Linked DNA regions of Homo sapiens. The protein of the gene in region 1 purifies or fractionates together with the protein of each later gene. This does not show direct contact. Each region holds a gene or a part of one and is shown in the gene's direction. Other genes may lie near its edges. The genes, in order: CDK15, NDRG1, SERPINA3 and IL36G.

Region 1 (7,032 bases):
AGCTGGGATTACAGGTGCATGCCACCACGCCCAGCTAATTTTTATGTTTTTAGTAGAGACAGGGTTTCGCCATGTTGGCCAGTCTGGTCCCAAACTCCTGGCCTCAAGTGATCTGCCTACCTCAGCCTCTCAGAGTTCGATCGTATTTTGAATCAGGCCTTTCTACTTGGTTGGGGCTGCAGTGTTCCTCCAAAAAGAATCCTTGATTATATATTTCTGTTTATAATTATATTTCTGTGTCTTTTATGTGTACATGGTGCCCAGACACACGGTGGAGGGCAAGGGAGCTGAGTGATAGAATGAGGAGATTTTTCCCCTTCAACTTAGTAACAGGACAGTCAGTAAGAGTTTAGTATGGGGGTTACTTTTCCAGTTGCCATCAACTTTAGCAATTCCAGGAAAATTCTACTTAAAATCTAAGTCTAGCCATCTCCTTTTCTTTACTTTTTGTTTTTATCCCTTTGTTTTTCAGAAGGGAGGCTGCTGGAGAAACTCTATTTTTCTCTCCCACTTTTCCAGGCTGGGCAGGGTTCCTGAAGCTGAAGACCTGGCCTCCCAGATGCTAAAAGGCTTTCCCAGAGACCGCGTCTCCGCCCAGGAAGCACTTGTTCATGATTATTTCAGCGCCCTGCCATCTCAGCTGTACCAGCTTCCTGATGGTGAGCGAGGGAGTGTGTGCGTGTGCGTGAGTGCATGTGCGTGAGTGCGTGTGTGTGTAAGTCTTGGTGTCTTAAGTAGTTTGCCTCAGCACCGGAGAATCATAGCATTTACCCCCAGGAGTGAAGTTAGAGATCAGTTTGCCTGGGAGAAGCAAGATAGGACCTAATCTTGTCTGAGTTTTGCATGAGCTTCTCTCAAACTCTGAAGCACTGGTGGGGAGAGGTTACAAGGACCTCTTTGTAATGGTCCAGACATTTCACAGGTACACATTTACACTCAGAAATTGGATGAGATGGACGTTGTCTCTGAGTTGTTTGCCTTAGCTACCATCTGCCAGGAAGCCACACCAGTGTTTCTAACAAGACTCTTCTCCCTTTCTGCGGAGAGTAAGATGATAGGTGAAGCGGATATGTCCTGAGAGGGAGCTGGGCCTTTCTTGATTGGTAATAGCAAGCTGCAGAAGGCAGTGCCGGGGTGGGGTGCTGGGGGAAGGGAGGTCTCCTCCGAGGCTGCCCACCTCCTGTAAACACAAGTTACCTTGGAATCAGCCTTTGCTGCCTGGGCCTGAAGTCATCTTCCAAACCTGAAATCTGCTGAGGGATCATGTGGTTGGAACTCCCGTCATGTTTCTTGGACTGTGGCCAGGAAGGGCTACAGGAGGATGTGGGCAGTGGTCATGGGGGACTATCCTTAGGTGAGGTTTCTTTGAAAAAAAATCCACCATTCAACTAAAAATAGTTTTAGGAGCAAGGGACAAGTAGACAAGAAAAGCAAAGCTACCAGGAAGGAAAAACAGAAGAGAGAGAAGCAGCCAGGGTTGGTTTTAGAAGTCCTAAGCCAGAGAAAAGAAAGCTTAGGAGGGAGGGCCTAAGGGCTGGAACTGCGATGAGGACACTGGAAGGGGCGTGGGGGAGTGGCGATGGGGTGCAGTGAGATAAGGATGGGGACAGGGTGAGGAGCTACTGCCCAAGAGGTGTGGAAACAGCCTGGTCCGCCTTGCCAGAGTTTGCAGACGCAGCTCCTCTGTGTCTAGGACATCGTCCTGCAGCAGTCCAAAGCGCTTAGTTTGGGACTTGCTGAGGCATTCTGTTTTATGACTAAAGTGAGTCATTTAGGATCTCCAAAAATAACCATAATCATACAACTGGGGTTAATGTCTTACTTAACCCTGTAGAAAGAGTCAGTCATTAGTATTTATTAAATTGCCATTAAGTGTCAAGAACATATTGAGTGCTATAAAAAGTTGAGGAAAACAAGAGACTTGTCCTTGGCCTCCAGGTTCTTATGAAGTGGGAGGAAAAGAGGGTGAGGAAGAGGAAACGGGGCACCCTCGCACACATATCAGCACACATCATATCTAAACAGCAAAAAATCTGTGCATAATCAACTGCAGATGTGCAGAGACTATGTGTGTGTTGAAGGCAATTATTTGGAGGAACAAGAATTCAAATGAGATGGATTAGACTGGAGGTGAATCTAAAGTGGAATTTGGAAGGAGGAGAGAGGCATATGGGTGGAACAAAAGACATTGCAGGCAGATCCACAGTTCTCACTCCTTTCCTGGTACCTCTGCCCCCACTTCAGCCCCATTCCTCCCCGGCCACTCCCATCCCAATCCCCTCTTCCCAGTCCAAGCCCCTAGATTGTTCCTTTTCAGCTTTCTCCTGTCAGACTTGGGACTTATAACTCTATTACTTCATGCAAGTGTACACGCTTGGATGTACATACACACGCACACACACACACACTCCCTTCTCTCCACTTAAAGAAACTTTCCCCATTGGCCCTCCTTTAGGATCTGTTATTCCACATGCTGACAATTGCTGGGGATCTTCAGAGTTTTCTAGGCTCCAGCTTTTGCTTGACGCAAGATGATTAGGAAGAAACAATCACTGTCCAAACTGATGTGTTGTTAGAAACTTGGGTTTTGATTTTTCCTGGCTGACCCAAAAGCAAAGCCACCAACAGAGGGGCCGTGGTGCATGGGTATCTAAGGTTGTGTGTGTATGTGTGTATATGTGTGTGTGCGTATGTGTGTGTGTGTGTGTGAGAGAGAGACAGAGAGAACAATCTGTATTCCTTCCCTGTTCGCCCAGTCACAGAGCCCAAATCTACTTTGACACTTTTAGAAAAATGAAAAGATGGAATCTTGTAGGAGGCTGCCTGCACTAGCGGGGGAAACCAGGAGTGCTCACAGCAGGAGGGAAGTTGACTTTTCTTTATACATATAGGGGTTTTTCCATGCAGAGTTTAAATTATGCCTGATAAAAGGAGTTTCGTGGATGTTTCAGTTCTTTCAAATTCTCCTGGCTTCCTCCCAATTAAATGAGGTTTGTCAAAGCCACAGGGCTCTGCTGCTGCTGCCTCGGCGGACAAGCATTTCCTGCAGCGACATCTCGAATCCCCGAGGGAGAAGATGAAAGCGCCGGTGCCAAGAGACAGGGAAAGGCGGGGGCAAGATTGGGTGTGTGTGCTTCTGTGTGTGTGTGCTCGTGCACATGAGTGCACGAGCATGTGTGTGTGCTTGTGTATGTGTGTGACAGGGTGGTGGGTGTGCAGAAATATGTATATAGACAGATGGACAAGTAGATAGAAAAAGCAAAGCTACCAGGAAAGAAAAATAGAGGAAGAGACAGAAGCAGCCAGGGCTGGTTTGTGCACCTTCGTGACAGTGGCTCTCACCACCAGCACATTATCTACTAAGAGATGCGGTCCTTGGCCTGGCAGTGCCAGCCTGCTTTTTCATTGCCCCTGGCAATGAGCCTTTATTAACAGCCTCCTTTGCAGACAGAGCACACCAGTGGGTAATCACAGTTCCCAATCTGCAGGGACATAGAAACTCCATCCCTGAGGAGGGCTGCCCCAGGCATGAGAATTGTGCAAAAATCGGCATGCTCTTGTGAGTGATTTGTAAGGAGAGTTTCTCTGCCATAATTATGCAAGAAATTTTGCTCTCTGGTGGCATTTCAGTATAAAATTATTTAGGGGCTTATATTTATATCATTTTATTATTCTGATTTTATTCTGGTTGCAGGATAACAGAGTTGTCACTTTAAAATATATTCTGTTTCCCCTTTGATCTGGAAGATGCCAGCTCTTATTGTCTGCCCTCTAAAGAAGACAATTAAAGCATAAAGCCTGGGACTGGGAAATACGTGGAGAGTGGAAGGACAGCCTAAATCCCAGTGTAGGAGCGGCATAGAAATTCCACACAAAATGAAAGAATTGTTCCAGTCCATCTCTATTTTCATGACGCTGAGAAGTCCCGAACAATGCTTTCCCTAGGTTGTGGCAGTACGCTTAGAGCCAAAGGGCATTTATCAGGGGGTTATTTGCCATGAAAACCAGGAATTCCAGGATTAGTTTCCTTTTGGACAGCACCTGAAGTGGAAAAGTGTGAATATTAGAATGGCAAGCATGTGGGAACTTCTGCCAAGTTCTGACATTTTCCCTTATTGACTCGTGAACACCTGAAGAAACACTTGTTGAAGGAGAAATTATTGGTAGTCCCTCTCAAAACACAGCCAACAGCAAGCTAATTGCTTTTGCAGATGGCCAGGGAGTCGCTCTTCCCACTCAGACACCGGCTTATGGCCACACTTGTGGTCCTCGTGGCTGAGCCAGCAGGGCAGGACGTCAGCTGGAGCAGCTAGGACCTAAAATTAGGCCCTTGGCAACTCTCTAATCTTAGCTGCAGGTTCAGCTTCTTCATTTAATTCTCTTTGCCCTCAGCATGAACTTGGGCTCTGGGAAAGGAACACTGTTTAATGATTTGGGGGTGGGGGTAGTAGGAAATCATTAAGCTGCCCCTTCTTAAAACTGGCTCCGCTCTGTTCTTTCAGGAAACCTTCCAAATGTTACCCTTGGAAATTTAAGACTGATTTTGGAACCTAGCCATTTTGAACTACAGACACTGATCCAGAAAAGTATTTTTTATCTGAGGCAGTAAATGACACGTGATTTAAGAGTCTGGTCTTTAAGCCATGGTCCTTGATCGTCAGGACATCAAAGGCTGTCTCTCTTTCTCTCTCTCTCTCTGGGTTGGTCCCATTTTGCTTGCTAGCCAAGTCTCATACTTGAGTCTCCCATTCCTTCCTGGACTAAATCCCCTTCTCCTTTAAAACAGGTTTTAGCATCTTAGGGGGAGAAAATCTAAAAAGCTTGCAATTGTTTCACAAGTAATTTTGCAAAAATGCTGTACCACAGCCCCCATTGTTAGAGTATACTTATATACACATAGGGATGGAAGAAAGCATGGCATTTACCTCTACCTTTGATCACACCATCCCGATATCTATACTCCGAAAGTTCTTCAGCATGCCTCATTGCCCTGTTAAAATCTGAGTCGTGTTTTGTTTTGGTTCAATAAAATAACTTCAGGCCTTCTTTGAGTGTTATCTCCTTAATATATTGGAAGGTCCCTATGATATCACTTCCCAAAGGCCACTTTAGGCTGAATTCCTTTAACCTTTGTTTCCAAATACAAATTCTGTTTCTCCCACTTTTTAGTCATTTTGTTTTATTGTTCTCTTCTGAATCTGTTCCAATTATTTTGCTTATCTCTGAGAATATGGAGGCAGCATAGACTCAAATTTCTTGCATGGTGGGAGAATCATGTTCCATTCATTCATTGGAGGTTTACTGAGTGTCCATGAGGTGTGATATTAAAGGATACAAAAATGAATTAGTCATAGACCCTGTCCTCAAAGAGCTTACGGTCCTTTAGGAAATAAGACAAGTATATAAACAGCTGCAGATCAAGTATACAAATAAAGTGCTCTAAGTGTTTGAAGGAGGTGAGATTAACTCCAGCTGTGGGGATCCAGGATGATTTTGTGAGTGGGCCTTGAAAGATGATGGGTCTGGATGATTGGAGAGGAAGGGCATACGGGCAAAGGAATGTCGTGTTCCTCTCAATACCATCTAAGATCATTCTGAAGTTGTCTTCTTTTTAATCATAGTGGCTCAGTCTTAACTCATATACCATTGTAGTTTTTCTTACCATCGTATGCCTTTTTGCAACAATTTAAACATTCTTTAACATGTACTAATCAAGCTTAGTTTCACTCTGAATGCTTCCACGTAATTTCAAACCTATTCTGTTTATTGGTTTTTTTGTGTATTCTATTCAAAGTTGAACCAGAATATTTTGTCATTCTATGAGGCCAGGTTTCAGGGGCTGGGGATGTTGGAAAAGAGGGAGGGAAGATTCTCAGCCATCCTCTTGACTCTGTGCTACTTCTAGGAGTTTGTAACGTAACTCAGACCAATCTGTCCACCTTTTAAATCCTCCATTAATCAGCCCTTAAGAAGCGAATTTGGAGATGTCCTCCATAACACACTTCCTCACCTTCTATGCACAAAGTTGTTCTCCATCCATTTCAATATGTTAGAGGAGATACTGGGTTGAGACGTGGTTTATGGGGTTGCATAGCATTGTGTTGCTGGGAGAAGTCTGGGAAAACCAAGTCCCTCAGCCCTACCAAGCCCTTAAGTTGGTTAAATTTGTTACGTTCATGGCTGAGTCTCCAAGTAAAGATAAATAATTCAGAAAAGAGTTATTTATAAAGGATCTTAAAGATTACTTATTCCATACCTTCATTATATAGCTGAGTCACTGATGCCCAGGGAAGAATAATCGTACCTGCCTTTTATTGGACATCTATATGCTTTATATAAATTATCAATCTATGTACTAATTGGTGAGGCTGGAATTGTTATCCTCATATTACAGATTAGACAGCTGGAAGTCAGGTAGGCTAATTGCTTGAAGTCACACAGCTAGAAAGTTGTAGAGCCAAGATTTTACTTCAAATCTGACTCCTAAAAGCTACTCCTTTCCTACTATTCATTGTTCTTGCTAAAGATCACATAGGAACTTAGCTGCAAAATCAAGATTAGAACCAAGATCTTGATGCCCAGTTCTGTGCTCCTCCCACTCTCTCATGTACTGTGTTTATTTTAAAGCTTTTCTGGGAAAGATTCCACACATCTCCAGGTAGCGTGTTTAATATCTCACAATTAAGAGGGCTCAATTTATGTTGAATAGAGATTTACACCCCAGGACCAACTTCTTCCTCAATGCCATCTTACTTTAGTTTATTTTCTTTTCTTTTCTTTTCTTGTAATAATATATGCAATCAGCCTTGGGTTTTAAGATTTTTTTTTTTTTTTGAGATGGACTTTTGCTCTTGTCGCCCAGGCTGGAGCGCAATGGCATGATCTTGGCTCACTGCAATCTCCATGTCCCAGGTTCAAGAAATTCTCCCGCCTCAGCCTCCCGAGTAGCTGGGATTACCTGCCTGTGCCACCACGCCTGGCTAATTTTTGTATTTTTAGTGAGACAGGGTTTCACCATGTTGGCCAGGCTGG
Region 2 (7,217 bases), on another chromosome or scaffold:
ATCACTACAAAGTAAAAGGAAGAGGAGATGAGGTGGGCCTTTGGGTACAGATGCTTGTTTTGGAAAGTTTAGGGAGGAAGGGGTGAGAGGAACTGGGCTGCAGTACAGGAATGGGGGACTTGGGAATCAGAGGGGATTGGTTAGGGTGGGTCATTGATTGCAGTGAATGTTTACTTGTTGATTGGGCTGCAGTACAGGAGTGGGGGGCTTGGAATTAAGAGGGGATTGGTTTAGGGTGGGTCATTGATTGCAGTGAATATTTACTTGTTGATTAGTTTGATCCAGAAGAAAGGGAGAGATGGATGCTGGAGGAGAGAGGGGGTCCCGAGGGAGCCCAGGACTGGAGGTGGGAAGACACTTTTACGGACACTTTTTCATTTTGACAGACAGAAAAGATGATGGTCTGCAGCAGTAGACCCATAAATTGTGATTGAAAGGTCTGATGGTTTCTCTCACTCGTTTCCTCCATGCACAGAGAGGTGGAGTAATTTGCCCCAGGTACTACAGCTCATAAGTGGTGAAGTTGGAGCTGGGGGCCACAGACCACCGGGTTCTTCTCCATGAATCCCTGCTGCATCTTGGTCTCTCCCAACCCCGAGTACCCATGAGTTTTAAGAAAGACAGTTGGGAACAGGTGATTCCTATGGTCATTTTTGGAACATTTGGTTAGAATATTCTAGTATAAAATCTAAGTTGTTGTTAAGTAGAAATTTCCAGTGGACATTAGTCCAGAAAATCCAATCTCATCCTGTGACGGATTTGCAGCGCGTGTGCATTTACTAAGCAAATCTGATTCTACTGCTGACCAGCGAGAAAGAGGAATAATGTAAACAGTCAGTGCAATTGCACCCACATTCAGCTCCGTGAGCTTCTGCCACCTCAGCTGGCTGCGGTGGGGGATGTGGAGGTGCATGCAGCTCCCAGGTCCCAGTGAGGGGCCTCTGTATAGGGTGGGCGTCCTCTATGCTTTATGTGCATCCAGGCCTGTACTAAAGACAGTCTTTCTCCTGCAGCGTGACACTTAGCTAAGAAAACTACTTCATCTGGTGCTCAGCGGAAGAAAACATCCTTTTCAACAGGGAAGGAAAATTGGCTGTGTTGGGCTGAGGGAGGGGAGTGTGGAATCCAAATGGTGTCTTCCTCAGGCCTTCTCCAAGGTGATGTGGACTCTGATTTTAGAATGCCATCACTTGGAAAATTGTGTTCCATTGCTCAAATTCTTGCCTCCCTTCTCTGCTCTTTTCTCTTCACTCCACTCTCCTTCCTCTGTCTTCTGACCTATTCAATGCTAATGGTCTTCCAGAAGGTTAGGCTTCCCACACAAGCCCAGCCTCCTGCCAGGCAACCTCCTCGGGGTTTCAAGCTGCAAATCTGGGCTGCTCTTCGCATTCTGTCCTGAGGACCTCCTCAAAGAGACAGGCAAGGGCCTCCCCTGGCAAAATGCCCTTCTAATTCCATGCACTAGTTCCATTTGTTACTGAAGAAGTGGGCCGCCTTCCCTGCGCCTTTGAACTTGACATTCCTTATCTTGACACTCCGCACTTTTGAACTTGACACTCTTGTATCTTTAGCAGGTAAAAAACCAAAGGTGCTCACTCAATAAATCGCCGCAATGGGGAGCCTATGGGAAAATGGGTATGTGTAAGCTGGCTAAAGGATAACAGGCACACAGGCTGCTTGATCTGGGAGGGTCTTTAGACAGCAGGATGGCTCCCAGAGATGCACTTTTGTTGTTGCTGTTGTTCATGATCATGTCCCCAGGGTCTAGAATGGTGCCTGGGCATAGTAGGTCCTTAATATAGTTAGGGAATGAATGAGTTCATCTCAACCACGCTGTATGGATGGAGAAACTGCGTCTTGGGGCTGTACCATGCTATGCACCTGTAGAAAATGTTTTTGCCTTTTCAGTCCTTTCCCAGTGGCGGAGTACAGGACCCAGCTCATAAGAGCAGCTCAATTCTGTCATTTGTGGAATGACAGAATAAATAAGTTTCAGGGCCTAGGGAGGCAAGGCTCCTGCCTTAGCCTCCCAAGTAGCTGGAACTACAGCTGCATGCCACTAAGCCCACCTGATTTTTTATTTTCTTGTAGAGATGATGTCTCATTATGTTGCTCAGACTTTTCTGGAACTCCTGGGCTCAAGCAATCCTCCCACCTCTGCCTCTGAAGTAGCTGGGACTACAGGTACTTGCCACCAGGCCTGGCTAGCTTTCATCTTTTTTGTAGAGATGGGACATCACTATGTTGTGAAGGCTGGTCTCAAACTCCTGGACTCAAGAGAGGCTTCTGCATTGGCCTCCCAAAGTGCTGGGATTACAGGTGTAAGCCACTCTACCTGGACACAACATTTTATTTGAAATAAGAAAAATTTTCCCTCACTGGGAATGCTGCAGTTGAACTAGTTCAAATCCATAAAGAATGGAAGACTGCCCAGTGGTCATTCATTCACTTATTAATTCTAGATGTTAAATTTTCTAGGGTGGGGGAATGTGCTCCTACATTCAAGGCATTCTTGAATGTAGCCAAACTTTGTAGTTTAGCCAAACTTCATAGCTAATAGCCAAACTTTGTAGTTTAGCCAAACTCTTCTAGCAGCAAAACCCATGACACTGGAACTCTGTTCTTCACACTGGTCATTTGTAATAGAATAACAGAGCTTTAGCACTAGATAGGTTCTGAAAGATCATTGAATCTAATCCTCTCCCTTTGCCAGTGAGAATTCTGAAGCCCAGATTTGTTGATTTGTGATCGATAGTGTCAAAGACAGGCCTGAAACACAGATGTCCTGGGTCCTAGAGGTGCTGTTTGCCCCTCTCCATATTTCTTTTGTTCCAGAAAACCCTTCTCCAAAACTGGCCCTAATAATCAGAGGGGAAAGCCATGGCCCCTGCCTTGGGGACAGCATGGGTTGGCACAGAAAAGAGGTTTACAATTCAGCAGGAAGTGTTGTGCGTGCGCGCGTGTGTGTCTGTGGAGGCGCAGGGAGGGTCACCTGAGCTTGCCCTGGGTCTGGTCCTGGGCTCAGTGGCAAATTCAACGCTGGGCAGGTGGCCTGAGGACAATGACGGTGCCAGCTGTGAGTCAGACTTCCTTTATTCATAAAATCATGTTCCTCCATGCAGTGCTTCTCAACCTGGCTGCACGTCAGGAGCCACCTGGGTAGCTTTGTAAAAACCCCAATGCCCAGTTGGTTTGCACCCCCTGAGATTCTGATTAAACTGTTCTGGAGTCCATCTCTCTCTTTTTATTATCTATCTATTTATTTATTTTTTAATTTGGCGGCTCCTCTGGGACTTCTCATATGCAGTAGGGGTTGAGAATTGCTGGTTTCTTTGGCCAGATGGGAACATGCAGGCCAATAGTTACGCACAAACAGAGCAGCAGAGCAGGACGGTGCTAAGGTTGGAAAGGGTGAGTCATGAAAGTTCAGGAAATCAGAATAGGAAGGGGTGAGAATCCTCTCATCTGGGCTTGTGGGGCAGGAGAGAAGAGCCCAGTGGGCAAGGTCCAGTGAGTGTGCTTAGAACTGGGAAGATGAGGGGAAGGGTAAGCGCTGGGCGGCGGTGGGCAAGATGGACGAGATTAAACGGGAGCGAGGATTTCAGCGAGAGCTTTGGCGACACGGAAGGCTGAGAATCGGAGGGAGCCTGTCGGGCGAAAGCGAAGGCGGCTGCTGGGCAGGCAGCCGAATCCGGCTGGAGAGCCGAGCTGGTGAGACCTACAGGAAGTGAAGGGAGTCGCTCAGGGCGTGGCGCAACGAGACTCTTAGAAGAAACTCTGAGGCAGAGATGGGGGGCCTCCGCCCATACGGAGACACAAGGAAGTCCACATGCACACGCACGAGCGCGCACATGAACACGCACAAGCACACAAACGCCTCCTCCGGGCAGGGCACACGCGCCCGCTGCACAGGCCGAGGCCCTGGACTCGGAGGGGACTGCAGAGCCGACCCACAACCCGGGCCCCGATGCCCCTCCCGGCCGCGCCCCTACGACTGCTTGCGCAACAGGCGGCGGCTCCAGTGGGCGCCCGCCGCGCGCTGCCGGAGCCCAGCCCAGCCCGGCGCGCCCGGGAGGAGGGAGCAGGGAGCGGGGAAGGGGTGTGTCCCGGCTGCGTGCTGGGACTGCGAGGGTCTGGGAGGGGCGAGGCGCGGGGGCGGGGCCGCGGCGCCTATAAAGTCGCCCTCCGCCCGGACGTAAACAAACCTCGCCTGGCTCCCAGCTGGTGCTGAAGCTCGTCAGTTCACCATCCGCCCTCGGCTTCCGCGGGGCGCTGGGCCGCCAGCCTCGGCACCGTCCTTTCCTTTCTCCCTCGCGTTAGGTAAGCCCGCGCCCTCTTCTCCCAGGCGCGACGCGGAGCAGAAAGGGGCCGCCCGTGCGGTGCCGCTGGAGCGCCAGGACCGCCCTTTGTAGCCCCGCGTACTCCAGGAGTAAGCGCCCCGGAGCTGCAAGTGCGCGGTCACCCCGGGGCGCGGGCGCGAGGGGGCTTTGGGTGCAGACACCGCTGAAGTGGGGGGTTCAATTACGGAAAGGGAGGAAAAAAAGACAGGGTCCCATTCATCTCCCCCCTAGCTGGGGATTGGGGTTCTGGAGGTCGGGAAGGGGGCGATGAGACGGTCCGAAAAAATACCAGGATAGCGTTTCCTGGCGTCGTCTCCGAATCCCAGCTGGCGCCGCTGGCAGGGGTGCGCGCTGGACGTGGGTGCAGAAGGGACTAGGTGAGTGTGTGTGTGTGTGTGTGTGTGTGTGTGTGTGTGTGTCTGTGTCTGGGAACGGAGAGATTGCGCGCGAGTGTGTAGATGAGGGGTTGGTAGAGGTGAGTGGCGCTGGCAAGGAGGCTGGAGAGGGGGGCGTGGGTGTGTCTGGCTTGCAGACTGGGTCGGGAACGGGTGTGGATCCGAGAGGCTGGTGGCGCTTCAGTCCCGTAGCACACACAGGGCGGTGTGCATGTGTGAGTGTAAGCGTGTGTGTGGGGGGAGGGTCCAGGGTGTGTCACAGTGCAACACGCGAGCCGGAGCAAGTGTCTGCGAGCGCCACTGGGCAGGGTGCGCCCCCGGAGGAACCCGGGATTGGCGCATCGGCGGCGTGGGAGAAGTGACCTGGGCGAGAGGGGTCTCGCGGACATTTGGCGGCCCCTTGAGCTGGCTGGAGCTAGGAGTGGCGTCATTTTCGCCTCCGCCCACCCTCCCCCGCTTTCCTCCCCTCCCCTGCCTCTGGTGCTGGCCGCTCCTGCCCTCCACGGGGGAAAACAGCTGGAATTACTTCGACGTTCCTGGGGGATCCGCCGCGGTCTCTGATTCAGCCTCGGGAGGAGATTTCGGGCTGGGCTTGGGGAATGCGGCTGGTTCTGGGGGAAACACGCTGTCACGCCTCTGTCAAATTAGTAGCTGGAGCTGGGATTTAGTGGGTCGGTTCCTTACCCACCCCTCCCCCATATCCCCCGCCTGTTGTCCCTGCTGTCCCTGGGGGTCCTGAACAGCACGCCTCTGTGGCTTGGAAGTGGGAGATGCCTGGCAGTGGGTGGGGGAGGCAGGGCCCTTGGTTATCTTATGCCCATCCAAGAACACCCCTTCCTCACGGACGCTGGGGGCACTTCAGTTTGTTTGGTTTCTTTAAGCTACTGGGAAATATCTAATATTCAGAAGTCAGCCAGTGGCCAGGCAGGAGGGCGGTAGACATCCTTATAATACCCATCAGCTGCACGGGACCTTCTCCTAAGCTGCCTCAAAAGAACATATCTAAATACAAACCCCCTGTTCTTGCTGCAGAAATGTAGTTTCAAGGCGAATTTTTCAGTCTAGACTCTTCCTGTTGAGAAATTCTGGCGTTCTTATTGAGTTTCACAAATGTGATTGAAATAAGCAAGGTACAGAGGGGGCAAACCCCAGCGCCTTTCTTGGAAGGGCTGCCTTCTGGTGGGGAAGACACACGGCTGGAGACGCAGACCGGTTCTGTGTGGTGTGTGTGGCGGCAGAGCCAGCCCCAGGCTGGGGTGGCACAGTGTCGGGGATGAAGGAAGGTGTAAGGGAGAGAGAGGGTTTTGGTGTGGATGGAAAACTGGGTGTTCCCCTGACCTGTGACTTCTTAGCTTTGTGGGACCGTGTCTCCCACTGCATCTGGGCAAGGAGGAGGATTTGCCTGCCCTGCCCTGTAACCTGGCCCCTGGCCCAGCGCCTGGCAGGTGGGAGGAGTTGAAATATGCACATGGGATGAAGTGGATGGCTCTGGGTCTTCTGCCCCATTCTCCTGTGAACCAGCAGGTTGAGTTTCGGGCGAGGTAATAGACTGTGCATGGGTGGAGGTGTTGGCTTTTGCTTTTGAGGGATCCTGGAGTGTCTGTTTGGGTCTCTTGTGAGGAAGTTCTTTTGGAGCAACAAAGTTTGATCATTTGGAATGGAATAAAAAACTCACACAGGACCTACCTAGTCCAACTTCTTTCCATTTTACAGATGGAAAATGAGGCACAGGGATGGGGAGGGATGTGCCCAGGCCGAACTGAGCTGGAGCTCAGCTTTGTGAGAGGCTCCTGGGTGGGACTGAAGGCAGTGGAAAGGGTTCCTGGCAGGATTTTGCCTGCCTGCTATGGAGGGGCGAAAGGAAATTGCATCTTCATTGAATTTCTGGTGAGGAAACTTTTGAGGCCAAAGGGGCAGAGCGGAATGATTTTTTTTAAGTGTAAATCAGGTGTTCTTGAGAGATTAGCAAAGCCAGCCTGAAGGGCAGGGGCTTAGAGGCTGCAGCCCCCTGAGTTGGCCTTTGACTGAATGGGGCTGCCCCCCCCCCATGACAGAAGACAGATCTCAACTGAGCTGAGGGCCCCCCTGGGTTACGTTGAAATCCGCTGGCCTGAACTTGCCTCCTCATGGACCTGAAAGAAAGATAGCATTGTGTTTTTCGGGTGGCCCAAAGCTGCAGTTCTTCCTTGGGACCCAACCCCAGAGAATCCCATTCCAGATGTGACTCAGAGGCCTTGTCCTGGGAGAGAAAGCGTGATGACTCAGCATCTGAGACTCAAGCAGGGTTCAGGTTTGACTCAGCCTGGAAGGAAGGCCAGGGAGGGACACGACATCTCTCTCCCTCCAGAGCAGCCACTGTCTCCCTCCATCTGCCTTCATCCTCGCAAGAACGTTGCCTGGATCGTATTGCTCCATTGAATGGATGAGGCAACTGAGGCCAGGAGAGTTTCAGGATTTGCCTGTTGCCATATGGCTCAGGTGG
Region 3 (7,000 bases), on another chromosome or scaffold:
AACCACTCCAGGGCGCGTAGGAGCTAGAGCTCCCTCCTTGCAGGGGTGCTGCTAGACTAGGCCAGGAAGTCCCTCTGTCTGGATGCACCTGGGGCTCCTGCCCTGCACATGTGGGAGGAGCACATTCCAGCCAGGGGCCTTGGTGTCTGGAGGTGGCCAGGTGGGGCTGGGGCCATCTTCACAGGGCAAGATAATCCCCAAGGAGCCTGGCCACTTCCAAGATTCTATGATTCTACTCTGCTATCATCTTTAATTATTTTAAAAAATATGTCACTGACACATAACAAATGAGGGCAGAAATGGCATTGTTCCCATCTGGGGAAGAGCCTCAAGGGTGGGCAGTATACAAAACATGACCCTTTGCCAGATTCTAACTGGTCCAGTGCCCAATCCCATTGATAGAAACTCAACCAATGCAAACCTCAGCCTGCAAGCTCCGAAGGGGCAGAGTGCAAGCCGGTAGCTTTTGCCTCCTGGAGCCCACAGTCCAGATGGGGACAAAAAAAGAGATAGGGACACAAAGAGTGATCACTGAGCCAGAGGGTGGAAAGGTGCTTAGGAGACATGAGCTGCTTGGAGGCAGAGTCCTGCTTGGAAGCTGTTGGTTGATTCCTGGGCAAGCCACTTCCCCTCCTGGGCCTGGGTTTTCATCTGTAAATGAAGGCGTGGATCCAGATCTCCCTCTAAGACTACTCCACGCCTCACGTGCCATTTGTTCTCTGAGTTTCCCATGTTCTCGCCTCCTACTACCTAGCCCTATGCTAGGACTCTCCCCTCCAGGACACAGTAGCCAGCCTAGCTTTCCCCTCCCCACCTGCCTCTAACAATGGGAAACAGGCAGGTGGTAAACAGGTGGGCAGTGGAGGTGGCCCCATGTCTCCAGCCTCCCCTGGAAGCTCCCACCCCCCTCATTGTTCAGTGCTCTGGTCCTCCTGGAGTGGAGACCTGCAGGGCCCCTCCCCTTCCTCTGTTGACCTCTCCTCACTCTCCAGGTGCCAGTTTTGCTCCCTGCCTCAGCCTGGTTTACATACAGTGTATGTGACGGGGCTTGGTCACTGCTGGGGCAGCCCTGTGGAAGGTGGAGGGGACCGAGCATGCATGAGCTTCAGGCTGAGACAGTCCCAGCTCAGAACCCTGGAGTGCTTGTTCCCTCCCTTTCTGCTCTTCCTCTTCCATTGCACCCACTGGACCCAAGAGCATGCAAGGATTGACTCACCCAGTGATGCTAGAACTATGTATTCAGCTGAAAGTAAGGGGGTGGGGGCATCCAACCAGGGGCAGAAGATGGGAATTCAAGAAAGGAAGGTTTCCCCTAGAAAACGGTTTTCGTCTTTTCTCTTAAATCCAGATAGAATAAGAAGCGAAGGCCGTTACAGCAGAGAGAAAGTTGAGTCAAGCAGAGATCAGATACTAAAGACACTAGACTAACCAGACATTCGGGCCCTCAGTTGAACAGCTGAGGATGTCAGAAGATGTTAAGGAGGCAAAATTGGAAAACTTGGTGGCTGGCAGACAGAAATGGGGGGAGATGGGAGCAGATGTGAGAAGATTTAAAGGCTTGTAGAGCTTGGGTGGTGATTTCATCCACCAAACCTATCTCTCTCCCCATTCTGGCATACAAGGCAGCAGTCAGGGTCCCCAGAGGCAGCCCATCTTTCTGGCAGGGACCCATGCTGGAGATCTGGCCAGCTGAAAGGCCCCAAAGGAGCTCGGTGCCCTGGGTAATATGGGAAGGTGCTCCATGGCACTGCCCTCACATGGAGGCCACAGAAGCCCCTGAATGGCTGCTGCAATTGGTAACGGGGACACCTGTTCAACTGAAATATCTCCTACCCTGAGATGGGTCCTTTCTCCAAGGGATCTTTACAATTACATTTGTCCCCAGTCATTCCATGTTGGGAGGCTGCAGGGACCAGAGAAGCTGAGATGGTCTTTGGGGAGGGGAAAGGAAAGATGGACAGTTATTTTGGTCCTAGAAAGCCCAAAGGTGGGGAAGTGTCAAGAAGGAAGATGAGGGCACAAGAGAATGTAGGGCCACCCAGAAGCTGGCTCTCATTGCAATTACAGAAAGAAAAACCAAAATAAAGAAAGAAAGGAAAGAAGCTCCCATTTATTGAGCAGCTACTCTCACCAGCCATTCACATGCAATACCTCGTTTAATTCTCGCAGCGGCTCTGAAAGGTGGATGGTGGTATTGCCATTTGTTAGGTAGGAGACATGCCGTCCAGAAAAGCAAATAATTAAACATTCAAAGTTGACCTGGGCCCATTTGAAAATTCCTTTTGCTCCCTCATTTTAACCCCTAAAGTAAAGCCGTTTGTGACTTTATGAGCTTTTACCAAGCATCTCCTAAAACCAAGAATGGAGGTGAAAGATTGTGGAGCCCACAACCTAGAGAAAGGATTGACAATTTTTTTTCCATAAAGGGCCTAGTAGTATGTATTTTAGGCTGTGTGGTCCACATGAGGGCAGATTCTTCTTTTTGACTTCCTCCTCTGCATCTTCTTCATCTTCTCTTTCCTCTTCATTTTTTTTACAACCTTTGAAAAATATAAGCACCATTCTTAGCTTTAGGTACACACAAAAATAAGCTATGGCTGTATTGGCTTACAGGCTATAGTTTCCTGACCCCTGTTCTAGGGGAGGAAAATAATTGTACCCAACTAAATGCGTGCGAATCATGGGCCTATGTCATGATTCCCAAAGAATGAGTTTCATGGAATTTTCAACATTTTAAATATTTTACTCCATTCTTCCCTTGCTTGCATAGTTTCTGATGAGAAGTCTGCTGTCATTTTCATCCTTATTCCTTTTTAGATAAGGTGGAGTTTTCCTCCCTCTGCCTCTACCTCTACCTCTTTCAAGATTTTCTCTTTCTCTTTACTATGGTAAATAGGCCTTTAGTGAGAGGAGTTATGTCAGCCTGGCTAGGAGTCAGGCTGCATTTCAGGTTTGTGATAGCTAGAGGTACCAGAGGCAGTTTCATGGAATTTTACCTTTGCAACACTGAGAGCCTAGGCAGCCTCAGAGTCAGAACACCCACAGTTGAATCCTCAGCCTGACAGACACTGAATCCAGGGCAAATCTTAGCTGAATATTCATGGTCTGTAGAGGTGGACATGAGCTAGATATGAGCTAAGGACCATAGCCAGCTCATGGCTTTTGTGATGTCCAACACCGCTATCCTCTAAGATGTCACAAGTGTCCCTAGGCTTTTATTCCCATGGTCTCTCCTGGCTCTGAGTTCTATCTTCCATTAAGGTTCTTCCTGTTCCTCCCCTCATTCACACTGATTGGCATCTCTTCTGTCTGCCCTCACCAACTCACATACAGAACCCAGTCTCTTTCCTCTTATTTCCACCCAAAGCCCTCCCACAAGCCACTGTTATATGTTCACATCCCTGTAATACCAGTGAGTAATAATTGCTAATGAGACATTTTTCCTTTTATGGAACAAAGGCTGTCCCATTTCTCCTCAGGCACCAGCCTCCCACATGTTGTCATGCCTCTTTCCCCCACTTTCCCTAAACCTTCTTTCTCTCTTGCACTCCTTATTCCCTGGTTCCTATTGATTTCTCATTTAGCACAAGGAACTAGGTCTTTCTTTTGTGGCCCTTTTCCCAATCCAAGCCTGCTGGGCTCTCCCTCACCCCCAATAACTTTTACTCTTGCCAAGCTACTTCTCTAAACCAAAGCAGGGTCCCTCCTATGAGGGACTCTGGGCACTTCCACTGCTGCGGAAGCAGGGTCGAGCAGGGCGACCCTTGCACTCACACCTTCTCCAACTGCTTGCTCCACCTTCAGCCAAATGGGAGATGCCCTTTGACCCCCAAGATACTCATCAGTCAAGGTTCTACTTGAGCAAGAAAAAGTGGGTAATGGTGCCCATGATGAGTTTGCATCACCTGACTATACCTTACTTCCGGGACGAGGAGCTGTCCTGCACCGTGGTGGAGCTGAAGTACACAGGCAATGCCAGCGCACTCTTCATCCTCCCTGATCAAGACAAGATGGAGGAAGTGGAAGCCATGCTGCTCCCAGAGACCCTGAAGCGGTGGAGAGACTCTCTGGAGTTCAGGTGATTCTTCCTGGCCCCCAAAGACCCCACATCTCTCCACGTCAAGGTCTCACCAATGTCCAGGGACAAGGGCATGGTGGTGGGAGAACTCATACAGGGACAGGTGGAATTTACACTTACTTTGCCCTATGCTGCCTACATGGCTTTGGGCTTGATTTTTCTTTTTCTTCTTTAAGACAATGACATCAGACAGGACAAGGGGCTGAGGCTTCCTCTGACTCCAGCATGTTCTAAGTCATGAGAAATCTTCTGCACAGTCCCAAACACTCATGCATGGTTTCTCCTGGTCTCAATCTCTTGAAGGGAGAGAGAAACAGAAGGAATTGTGATCAGTTGAGGGCTGCAGTGAGATGGACTCTGAGAATCAGTTCTGCACTGGTGAACCACTGTATTTATTCATTCTCTCAGCATTTGCTGCATGATTAATTGAGCACCTACTATGTGTCAGACACTAATTTGCACCCTGAGAGTAAATCAGCAAATAAAACACAAGATTCCCTGCCCTCCTGGAGCTTAATTTGTAATTGGAGAGGGGACAGGCAATAAATAAATATAACAAATAAGTTACGTGATATATTAGAAGGTGAGAAATTGAGTAAGGGGATAGAAATTGAGTAGAGGAGGATGAAAGGATCAGGAAAACTGGAACTCGTGTTAGTTTGTGATTTTAGATAGAGTAGCCATTAGGTGATGTTTGAGCATCCATATAACAGAGGGGAGGGGTGGAGTCATGTTGGTATATTAGGGAAAAGCATTCCTGGCAGAGGGAACAGTCAGTGCAAGGCCTCTGAGGTGGAAGTGAGCTTGATGTGGTCAAAGAAGAGTCAGGCCAGAGCAGCTGGGCTTCCACTTCCTCCATCTTGTCTTGATCAGGGAGGATGAAGAGTGCGCTGGCATTGCCTGTGTACTTCAGCTCCACCACGGTGCAGGAGCAGAGAGAGTGAGGAGAGAGTTGAGAGAGGTCAGGAGTCCCCAAAGGGGTGGAGCAGCTTAGGTAGGGCCACGTAGACCCCTAGAAAACCTTGCCCTTCCTCCTGTGTGTGAAATGGAGAGCCATCAGGAGGTTTGGAGGAGTGCTGCGATCCGAGTGTTGTTTTAAAAGACTAATCCTGGCTGCTGAGAGGAGAATAACTGTAGAGCAGGTATGGAGTCAGTGACACCCGCAGGAACCAGGCACAGACATGAGGTGGGAGCCCACTGTGGCTGGGATCCAGGAGGGAGCCATGCATGTGAGAAGTCATTGAGTTCTGGATAAATCTGAGGGTAGAGGAACTTGCTGGGACACACGGAATTGAGCTGACCGATTTCATGGGGACACAGTGAGGAGGAGCAGTAGTTCCGGGCCCAGACCCTGCAGTGGGCCCAGGGAGTGCATGTGGGCAGCTGTGTGGGGTAGAGAGGAAGGAGCACCAGCCTTGGGTTCAGACCGTGGTGGCTGGTGTGACCTGGAGCAGGTCGCTGCTCTTCTCTGGAGCTCAGCTACCTCCTGAAGAGAAAGGAATGTCCTTTCCCCACCACCCCTGTTTTCACTGGGTGATTGTGAGAATCCGGTGAGGTATTGTATGTTGAAGCCATAATAAACCACTAAGGGCAAGGGAGCTGCTTCAACACTAACCTGAGGCTGCAACCCCTGCCCCAACCACTGTCCAGAAGGCCGGACACCTCTCGGGATTGCCTGACCCTCAGCCCCTCCTCACTCTAGATCCCAGGAGACCCCAGAACGTGGGGGTCCTACCCAACCCATCCGTTTACTCCCAGACTCCTTCCTCCTTTAGCACCTAATAGCCACCAGGGAGCAGGGGCTCAGCAGATAATTTTGAGTGGAAAGAATTCTCCAAACACTTTTGATTTACAAAATGCTGAGGAAACATGTGTCCACACACTCCTGGCCCACAGAGAATGCTCAATAGATACTTGTTGAATGAAGGATGGAATGAACGGACAAACACATGAATGAATGAATAAAAATAGAAATAGGACACCTTCCTCCTTCAGGGGACTCAGAGTTTAATGGAAGACACAGCCTCCTGTATAATTGTAAGACCAGGCAGACAGTGACAGGCATCTTAAGAGGGCTATAAACTAAGGGAGGGGGAGTTTGCAGGTGGCAGGTGTGACCTGGGCCTCTAGGAGCTTGCTACCTGCTCTATGCCAGCCCACACCTGGCTTGAGGGACAGTGCCCACTGGTGAGGCAAGATGGGAACCTCCAATTGATTGTTTCAGGATCCCCAAAGCTCTTCTAACACAATCAGACTCTTCAGAGGCCCCCAGGCCCTTTTTGACCTGCCTCTGGCTCCTGGCCCACCTCATCCCTCACTACCCTCCTCCCTGAAACACTGAGATCACCCACCGCCCCGTGGAGCAACTCCTCCTGCTCCCACCTTCTTCCAGGTTCTTCCACCTGCCTCCTGCCCACCTCTTCACCTAGCTAGCTCCTTTCCTGCCTTTGGGACTCAGCCTCAACACCACCTCCTACAGGAAGCCCTCCTGGTGCCCCCGTGAAGCAGGCTGCCATGCAGCCACTGCAGCTGGCCCAGCCCAGGCTCTCAACACACTCAGGGGTCCCTGCTGGTGTGAAGGTGCTTCAACTGCATTGCAAGCTGCAGGGAAAGGGCAGGGCCAGGCTCGAGCAGGGCCACAACTCCAGGCTTGGTGTGCTGCCTGGAGACTTTCACACTTGCAGATCTGAATGAATAATTAATGAATAAGAAGAGTAAAGACAGGGGTTAAGAAATTGAGGAACAGATTATTTATTTTCCAATCAGAAGGGGGTGACTGTAGAGGAAACCAGGGAAGACCATGCTGCGAGGTGGGAGGCAGGTAGGTACTGATCAGCAGAGGTTCAGATACTTTTTTTTTCTCGTTTTCTAGAGAGATAGGTGAGCTCTACCTGCCAAAGTTTTCCATCTCGAGGGACTATA
Region 4 (7,013 bases), about 89 Mb from region 1:
GTAACCTAGTAAATATTTTTATTGTTTTAGCCACTTGAATAGGATTTTTCAGGTTTCGAAGCTGAAAATAACTTAAATTGATAGACTCTTATAAGTACACATATGGGGCCAAGCGTAAACACATTATCATTTTTAATAGCCTCTACAAAATTGCTTTCCAAAAAGTCTGCAATGATTCACACGGCCATCCATGTGGTGAGTGAATCTATTGTCTCACACTATTGCCTACTATCTTTTTAATCTGTGCCTTCCTAATGGGTGGAAACTGAATCTCAGTATTGCTTTGATTTGCATCTTGCTAATTACCAGTGTGGTTTACTATAATTACTTATATTTATTGGACATTTATATTTTCTACTCAGTGAAATACTTTTTACGTCAATTGCTCATTTTTCTATGGAATTATTTGCACTTTTCCTGCTGCTTAGTAAGAATTATTTATAAACTTTGGATATTAATTATTTGTTAGATGTGTTACAAATATTTTATCTTGGGTAGTCTGTCTTTTTAAATTCATTTCATGATGTGTTTTGTCCAAAATTCTAAAATTTGGGTGATATTCAATTTATCATCTTTTTTTTTTTATATGGATTTTGCACTTTGTGTGATTTGGGGCAAAGAAGGCTAAGGGTTCTCTGTCATTTGGCTCTTTGTCTAGGAATTTCAAACTCTAGGCATTTAACCTGGACCCCTTTCTCAGGAGTTGCACTATGTGCTGTCTAATTAAGGCTTTTTATTGCTTTAGTTCTTTGTTGTTGTTGCACATAAATGACAATTTAACCAATAACTGTTTTAAATTTAGAGAAATATGCCTTTACAATAGTCCTATATGGTTTGGTTCTTTAGTCTTAACTCTTTTAATGTTTCTATTTATTACTGCCATTTTGATGTGTAGCTTTGGGGTTATTTTTGTTACTCTGTCCTTCATTTAAATAGCGTGTTGGCCTATGTGCCAAAGTCTGGGGTTTCATAGAAACCAGCTTCAGGAAGATGTAATGGATCAGCTCATAGGAAGCAAGTCTTTGATAATGGGCTTGGGCTATGTGGAGGAGCAGAGGCTTTCGGCCATGTCCATGCACATCATTCCATCTACGTTGGGTAAAGGCTTTACCACAGAGCCTATGCCAAGAGCTTCCTTGGCATTTTCCCAAGTCCACTAGAGTACAAATGGCCCCACACTGGTCTCTGTGGTTCATGGTACACACCATGTTGCCCCACCAATTTAAGCGAGATGAATGCCAACTTCTTTCCAGTGGCAATCTTCAGGCCAGGTTGCCAGCCTGCTTGTAGATAGCCCTTGATAGGTAATAGGCCACATGGCTTTGGTCCTCTTTGGGGGCCCCAAGGAGGACCTATGACTCCAGCAGAGAGCTCTGCATTTGGAGTCCGGAGTTATAGATTCTAAGTTTAATTTTACTACTAAGGTGATTTTTTTTATGGTTGGCAATGGTGGGGGCTGAATAACCTTTACTGCTCCATGGCTCCCTCTGCTTTGTTATGATTGTGTGCCTGGTTTCATGAAAAAGGTGTTGTAGAGATTCTAGAGATTGTAGTGGTGGTCAGTAATCAAGTTCTCTTACCCTACCTGCATTTCATTGATATTCCCTCAACTTAATAAGGTAATGAGCATGTTAAGTGAACAAACTAGTAGCAGGGCTTATTACCAAATGAATGTAGATTGACAGTGTCATAGAGCTTGGAAATTAGAATCTGGACTAAGTGTTTTCTTAAAATCATTTTCATATCTAGGGAATTTGGCCTTGTCAGTACTTATGGTAATTAAATTCAAGCCACACTTAATGATAAGCATCATTGTCATTGTTCTCCATGATAATAAATCGTTGATAATAAATAAAACAATCAATGGTAATAAATAAAATATAGCAACGCTATGTTCTTTACTTTTTATAACCAGAATCAATATTGATGGTTTTCTCAAGTACAGCCAGGGTATCATGTAATTATAACATCCATCCCTTCCACTTTAAGATAAACGTTCGGGGCCATTTCTTCAGTAGATGTGATCTCTGCTCTTTACTGATCAACCCCAGTGATTCAGTTCTCCCCTTTTATCATCATCACTCCTACTCCCTCCAATTTCTCTGATACTTATTCACACTAACAGTTAAACTAGGGACTTCAGGATGGATGCTGAGTGCTGGGAATTCTAGGAAGGGCTGGATTCTCTGAGTGCTTGGAATCTATTGAAGGGTCAGGACCAAGTGGAATGAGGGCGGAGGCTGAAGAGGACACATGTCACCCTCTTTTATAGTTTTTGCAACCTTCATCTGGGCGTGGGAAGTTCTAGCTGTACCCACAGGCTTTTGAACCAAAGAAAATTCAGCTGTTAGAGCTGTGTCCTGTGAGTCCTCTGAGCATCCTCTTCTTGACCCCTCCCCTCCACCTTCATGCTCCAAGCATTGACCAGACTGTACTCTCTTTTCAGAGGTCTGAGCATCAATTTGGCAGAGAACGCCTCACCTCCGACTCATATCTGGGGATAAGTCCTACAAAAGCGCTCCTTTGAGACCTAGGTTCTTTTGTTCCCTTTTGTTTCCTTCCTGTAGTTGTTACTATCTGAGATACCACAGCAATCCCTTAATCTTCTTTGGCTTTCCAACACACGTGTATCTAGTTCCTTTTATTCAATTCCCTTTGTTTGCAATTCCTAGCATGGATTCTGCTTTCAGAGGGATCCCAGTTGGAAATTCAGGCTTAAGGGATTTGGGGGGTCAAATGATGGGAATTTTAGATGCTGTTTTGTGGTGAACATCCCAAGAAAGGAGTTATGTTGACTGATGTGTAATGGAGGGGATTTTTAACAGGGCAATGGAGACTCAAGTGAGGTGGCACTGGCTCAGGTTGACTTTGAACAAAAGTGCACCTGGCATTACCACACTCTTTCCTAGGGTCACAGAAACACTGGAAGCCAAAAGTGATAGAATTGGGGCCATGGCAGGAAAGGACTGTGTTCTTCCAAGGCCAGAAAGGAGATTAGGGTGAAAAGTAAGAGACGTTGAGTCAGGAGACTCTTTGCAGGGCTGGGAAGAGGGGCTCATGGATGAGCTTATCTGGAAGGTTCTGTCTCATTCTTTGTGCTTTTCTTCCTTATAGATGGGTAAACCTGAAGCTGTTAGTGCTTCAAGTCTGTCTCCTAAAACTCACTTCACTCTAGTAGTTAACTTATACCTCAGTAAATTTTTAGGCTTGGCTACAGCAGATAGGATGGGGTGTATAAACAAGATATAAAAATAACTATTACCACTGATCAGGAACCTAGGGCAGAGGGTGGGGGATAAGCTGGCATCTGGGGCTCAGATTTGGGAGAAATCGCTGCCCACCTCTTTACTTCCTTAGGCAGTTCTGGAGTCCACTGCATTTTGAGGGTACCTGAAACTAGGATTGCCTCAGTTAAAAGACCAGTCTGCATAGTCCCTGTGGCTCCCCATGTGGATGGAGCTGAAAGAGTGTTAGGTAGGGGAGCTCTACTGCCTGGCTTTCCATTCAGGTGTGGCCTTAGGTGGGGTAGTTGAGAAATGCCACAGGGACCTTGCCTGAGACGTGTGGCTAATTTTGCTCTTACAGGATGCCTTTAGCCTGACTGCAGAGGGCAAGGCTCCCAGTCCCAGGAGATGGAGTCCCTGACATGAGAGTGCCTGGCATTTCCAGTTCTAGCTCTAGAATGACATGACAGGAGAGCTGAACTCTGGGAAATTCCCTTAGTTTCCCCTTTATGAGAAACCTAGGATCTGTCATCAACCTCATTTCCTTGTGGTTGATTTTGTGCGGATTGGCTCAACACTTATTTCTCAGCGAGCCCGGACAGGTGATACTTGTGCTAATTCTGTGATTTCTTCCTCCGAGCCTCACAGGATCTTCTGGTAGGAGGAGCTGGTTTTCTTTCATGTCATACGTTTCTCATGCCCCACCCAGGAAGCTGGAGCCTCCTTCTCTGCTCATCCAGATAAATGATCCAGGCTCCATTAGAACCCATCACTGACCTTGGAAGCTGCTGGAGCCACGATTCAGTCCCCTGGACTGTAGATAAAGACCCTTTCTTGCCAGGTATAGTCAATAGCTGGAAAACCTCTTCTCCCTCCCTCTGGAGCCTTTCCTCTCATCTGTGCTTTGGGCTTAATGAAGGGAAGGGCCACATCAGGCTGGCTCTGTGCTTTGTCCTATGTGTGGCTGCTTCTTACTGGGGAGTTGCTGGGATCCTGGCAGAGTGGCCCTGGCATGGGACCCTCCCCTGCTCCTAGGCAAAAACAATGCCGATGAAGGGGTGGAGGCTTCAGAGAAGAGGAGTCAGGGCATCAGGTGCCTGTGGGTTATTTAAGGTCAAATTTTATGCCTGGCCTTCGAACTCCTAGGGGAGACACTACCATACTATCTGGATCTCCAGGTGGAGGAAAATTCTACCTGTTCTCCCTTTGCTGATGCTTCCTTCAAGTTTCGTCCCAGATGTGGCTCAGAACTTCTGCCCAGAGCTTCGTGTCAGGCCAGGTTTCCCAGCTCCCTGTCTAGAATGAGGGCCTGTGGAGCTAGTGTCCTGGAAGGTCTTGGAAACATCTCTTGTGGTTCATCTGTTCTATGTCTGCTTTCACAGGTGCTGAGACAACCACACTATGAGAGGCACTCCAGGAGACGCTGATGGTGGAGGAAGGGCCGTCTATCAATCAAGTGAATCAAATGCTGTTGGGATGGGGCTCTGGAGGCTTAGGCCCTCTGCACTCACGCTATCTCCTGTGGAAGCCCCAGCCTTCTCTGCTCCTCTCTGTACACTGCCCTTCCCACCTGGTGCTGCCCACCTACCACTGGGCCCTGGGCTTCTGGAGGGTGGGAGCTATTGCTTAGTCACTGATCCAGCTCCAGTCCCCAGCACCGGGGCCAAGCACAGAGTAGGCACAAAAGAGGGTAGCTGGGCCTTGGCACACAGGTTCTGTGAGACTGCTCATTGCCCTCTGTCTTGATAGTTTGCCCTCTTAAACCAGTGACTTCCCTTGGTAGCCCTTGCCTTCCTCACCAGAGCTCACAACTTCACTAGAAAGAAAGGCTAGGCTGATGGGTGATGTGAGTGCTGTCAGTTTGGGGATGCAAACCCCACACCTTCCTTACAAAATGGCCTGGGTTAGATACTTTTCTCCTGGGTCTAGTAAAGCAGCCTTGATTATAATATTTCTTCATTTTTTTCTCTATCCCAAAATCAGTGTGTAAACCTATTACTGGGACTATTAATGATTTGAATCAGCAAGTGTGGACCCTTCAGGGTCAGAACCTTGTGGCAGTTCCACGAAGTGACAGTGTGACCCCAGGTGAGTGGTCACCCTGTGCCTTCCCCACTGTTTGCACTGCTGTGGCTGGGAAGCTGGCATCAGCCTTTTGTAAAAGTGTGACTTTACAATGGGGCCCACCAGGAGTGGGGAGAATTTCACACCTAATTGGGAAGAGAAGTCAGGGAGAACTTTGGGTTCCACTAAGATGAAGAAGCCAGAGATGGTGGAGGAGCCTCCAAGGGAATAGGAAAGCTGCTGTCAGTCATCTGAAGCCCTGTCTTATGGAAGACTAGTAGCTTGTTCTGCATGACTTCAGGGTGTCCTAAAATGACTAAATGGGTGAATACCACAGAAAGGCAGGTTTCAGCATCACATTGGGAAAAACTTGCAAAAGGGACCAAGCTCTCCAAGAATCAGAGGGGCTGCTTGATGTAGGAGCTCCCCATCTCCATGTGCTCAAGCAGAGGCGTGAGAATCTCAAGAGCATACTCTGTTGTCTGCTTAGCTCTCTGTGTTTGCTCATTTACTAGGGCAGTGATTGGCACATGGTATGAATGAATGAATGAATGAATGAATATGGGGGTTGGCCATTTGGTGGGTCTAGTTGGGATTACACTCTTCAGCTCTCTTCCAGATCCACTTGAGGATACTGCCCTGCTAAATCAAATAATCTTTCTGACTTCAAAAGGAAACTGATACCATCTCTCCTCTTATCTTTACAGTCACTGTTGCTGTTATCACATGCAAGTATCCAGAGGCTCTTGAGCAAGGCAGAGGGGATCCCATTTATTTGGGAATCCAGAATCCAGAAATGTGTTTGTATTGTGAGAAGGTTGGAGAACAGCCCACATTGCAGCTAAAAGTGAGTAGCTAAGAAAAATATTTAAAAAGCCTTTCCTTTTAGAAGTGTTTGGTTGAATACCTAATTTTAGAATTAAAAAAGAAATAGTCTCATCTTCCTAAGCATATTTATTCCCAGCCTCTTTTAAGTTATGTGCATGCAATACACTTTTCTTTTTATTCTGGCTGTCAGTAGTTAAGGTCCTTGTTTTGCTTTTTTTTTTTCCAAGCCAAACTGCATCCAGCTTTATTAAAGATACTTTCCATAAACATTCATGGTATTTCAGGCAGGATATGGGCAGACAATTGTTAAGAGTATGCAGCAAACTTCAAACTCCCTTGTTCAAAGGACTACCAAAAATCAGAAAGCCACTATAAAACTCAATGAAGTCTTCATCTGATGCTCTGAACAGGGAGAGTTTAGAGTGAGAGTTGACATTTCACATTTAGCATGTGGTTTAAACTTTTCACAAGCCAACCCTGACTTTCAGGAAGTGAAATGAAAATGGTAGAATTTATCTGAAGATCCACGATCTAGAAACAGAACCACTGCTCTTTTGACAGGTGCCATCTCAGTGGCATCACTGGAAAGTCCAGAGTGCCTGACATACTGGTAACCAATGATTGAGGGCCAGGTCCCAACAGATGTCTGGCTTAAAGGAGTTAAATCTATGCTGAAAGATGGAAAGGGAGAAGAGGACATAAAAATGAATTTATTTTCCATACCACAAGGCTTTTCTGCCAAGGTGGCCATGTGTGTCAAAGTCAGAGAATCCCTCCTCCTGGGAGCCAAGAGGAACTCTCTCAAAACTAGAAGGGAAAGGTGTTTTCCCCACATCGATCCAGCTTTGGAGACATTCTATTAGTGACATATGCCCCTTCCCCTAAAAACAACAATGA

The links.
Region 2: the proteins of CDK15 (region 1) and NDRG1 purify together in Homo sapiens (affinity purification with mass spectrometry; 2 studies listed by BioGRID and IntAct, with this or other methods). This does not show direct contact.
Region 3: the proteins of CDK15 (region 1) and SERPINA3 purify together in Homo sapiens (affinity purification with mass spectrometry; 2 studies listed by BioGRID and IntAct, with this or other methods). This does not show direct contact.
Region 4: the proteins of CDK15 (region 1) and IL36G purify together in Homo sapiens (affinity purification with mass spectrometry; 2 studies listed by BioGRID and IntAct, with this or other methods). This does not show direct contact.

What each region holds. Positions count from the first base shown.
Region 1 is NC_000002.12:201,879,509-201,886,540, forward strand, and holds part of CDK15 (cyclin-dependent kinase 15), read left to right. Parts: intron 1-519; coding exon 520-659; intron 660-2,756; coding exon of another isoform or gene 2,757-2,797; exon of another isoform or gene 2,798-3,183; intron 3,184-7,032. UniProt on the Homo sapiens protein: Serine/threonine-protein kinase that acts like an antiapoptotic protein that counters TRAIL/TNFSF10-induced apoptosis by inducing phosphorylation of BIRC5 at 'Thr-34'.
Region 2 is NC_000008.11:133,294,237-133,301,453, reverse strand, and holds the start of NDRG1 (protein NDRG1), read left to right. Parts: upstream 1-4,201; 5' UTR 4,202-4,320; exon of another isoform or gene 4,321-4,717; intron 4,718-4,763; exon of another isoform or gene 4,764-4,815; intron 4,816-7,217. UniProt on the Homo sapiens protein: Stress-responsive protein involved in hormone responses, cell growth, and differentiation. Acts as a tumor suppressor in many cell types. Necessary but not sufficient for p53/TP53-mediated caspase activation and apoptosis.
Region 3 is NC_000014.9:94,615,391-94,622,390, forward strand, and holds part of SERPINA3 (alpha-1-antichymotrypsin precursor), read left to right. Parts: intron 1-3,804; coding exon 3,805-4,078; intron 4,079-6,950; coding exon 6,951-7,000. UniProt on the Homo sapiens protein: Although its physiological function is unclear, it can inhibit neutrophil cathepsin G and mast cell chymase, both of which can convert angiotensin-1 to the active angiotensin-2.
Region 4 is NC_000002.12:112,974,014-112,981,026, forward strand, and holds the start of IL36G (interleukin-36 gamma), read left to right. Parts: upstream 1-3,992; 5' UTR 3,993-4,065; intron 4,066-4,606; 5' UTR 4,607-4,625; coding exon 4,626-4,680; intron 4,681-5,207; coding exon 5,208-5,312; intron 5,313-5,995; coding exon 5,996-6,135; intron 6,136-6,953; exon of another isoform or gene 6,954-7,013. UniProt on the Homo sapiens protein: Cytokine that binds to and signals through the IL1RL2/IL-36R receptor which in turn activates NF-kappa-B and MAPK signaling pathways in target cells.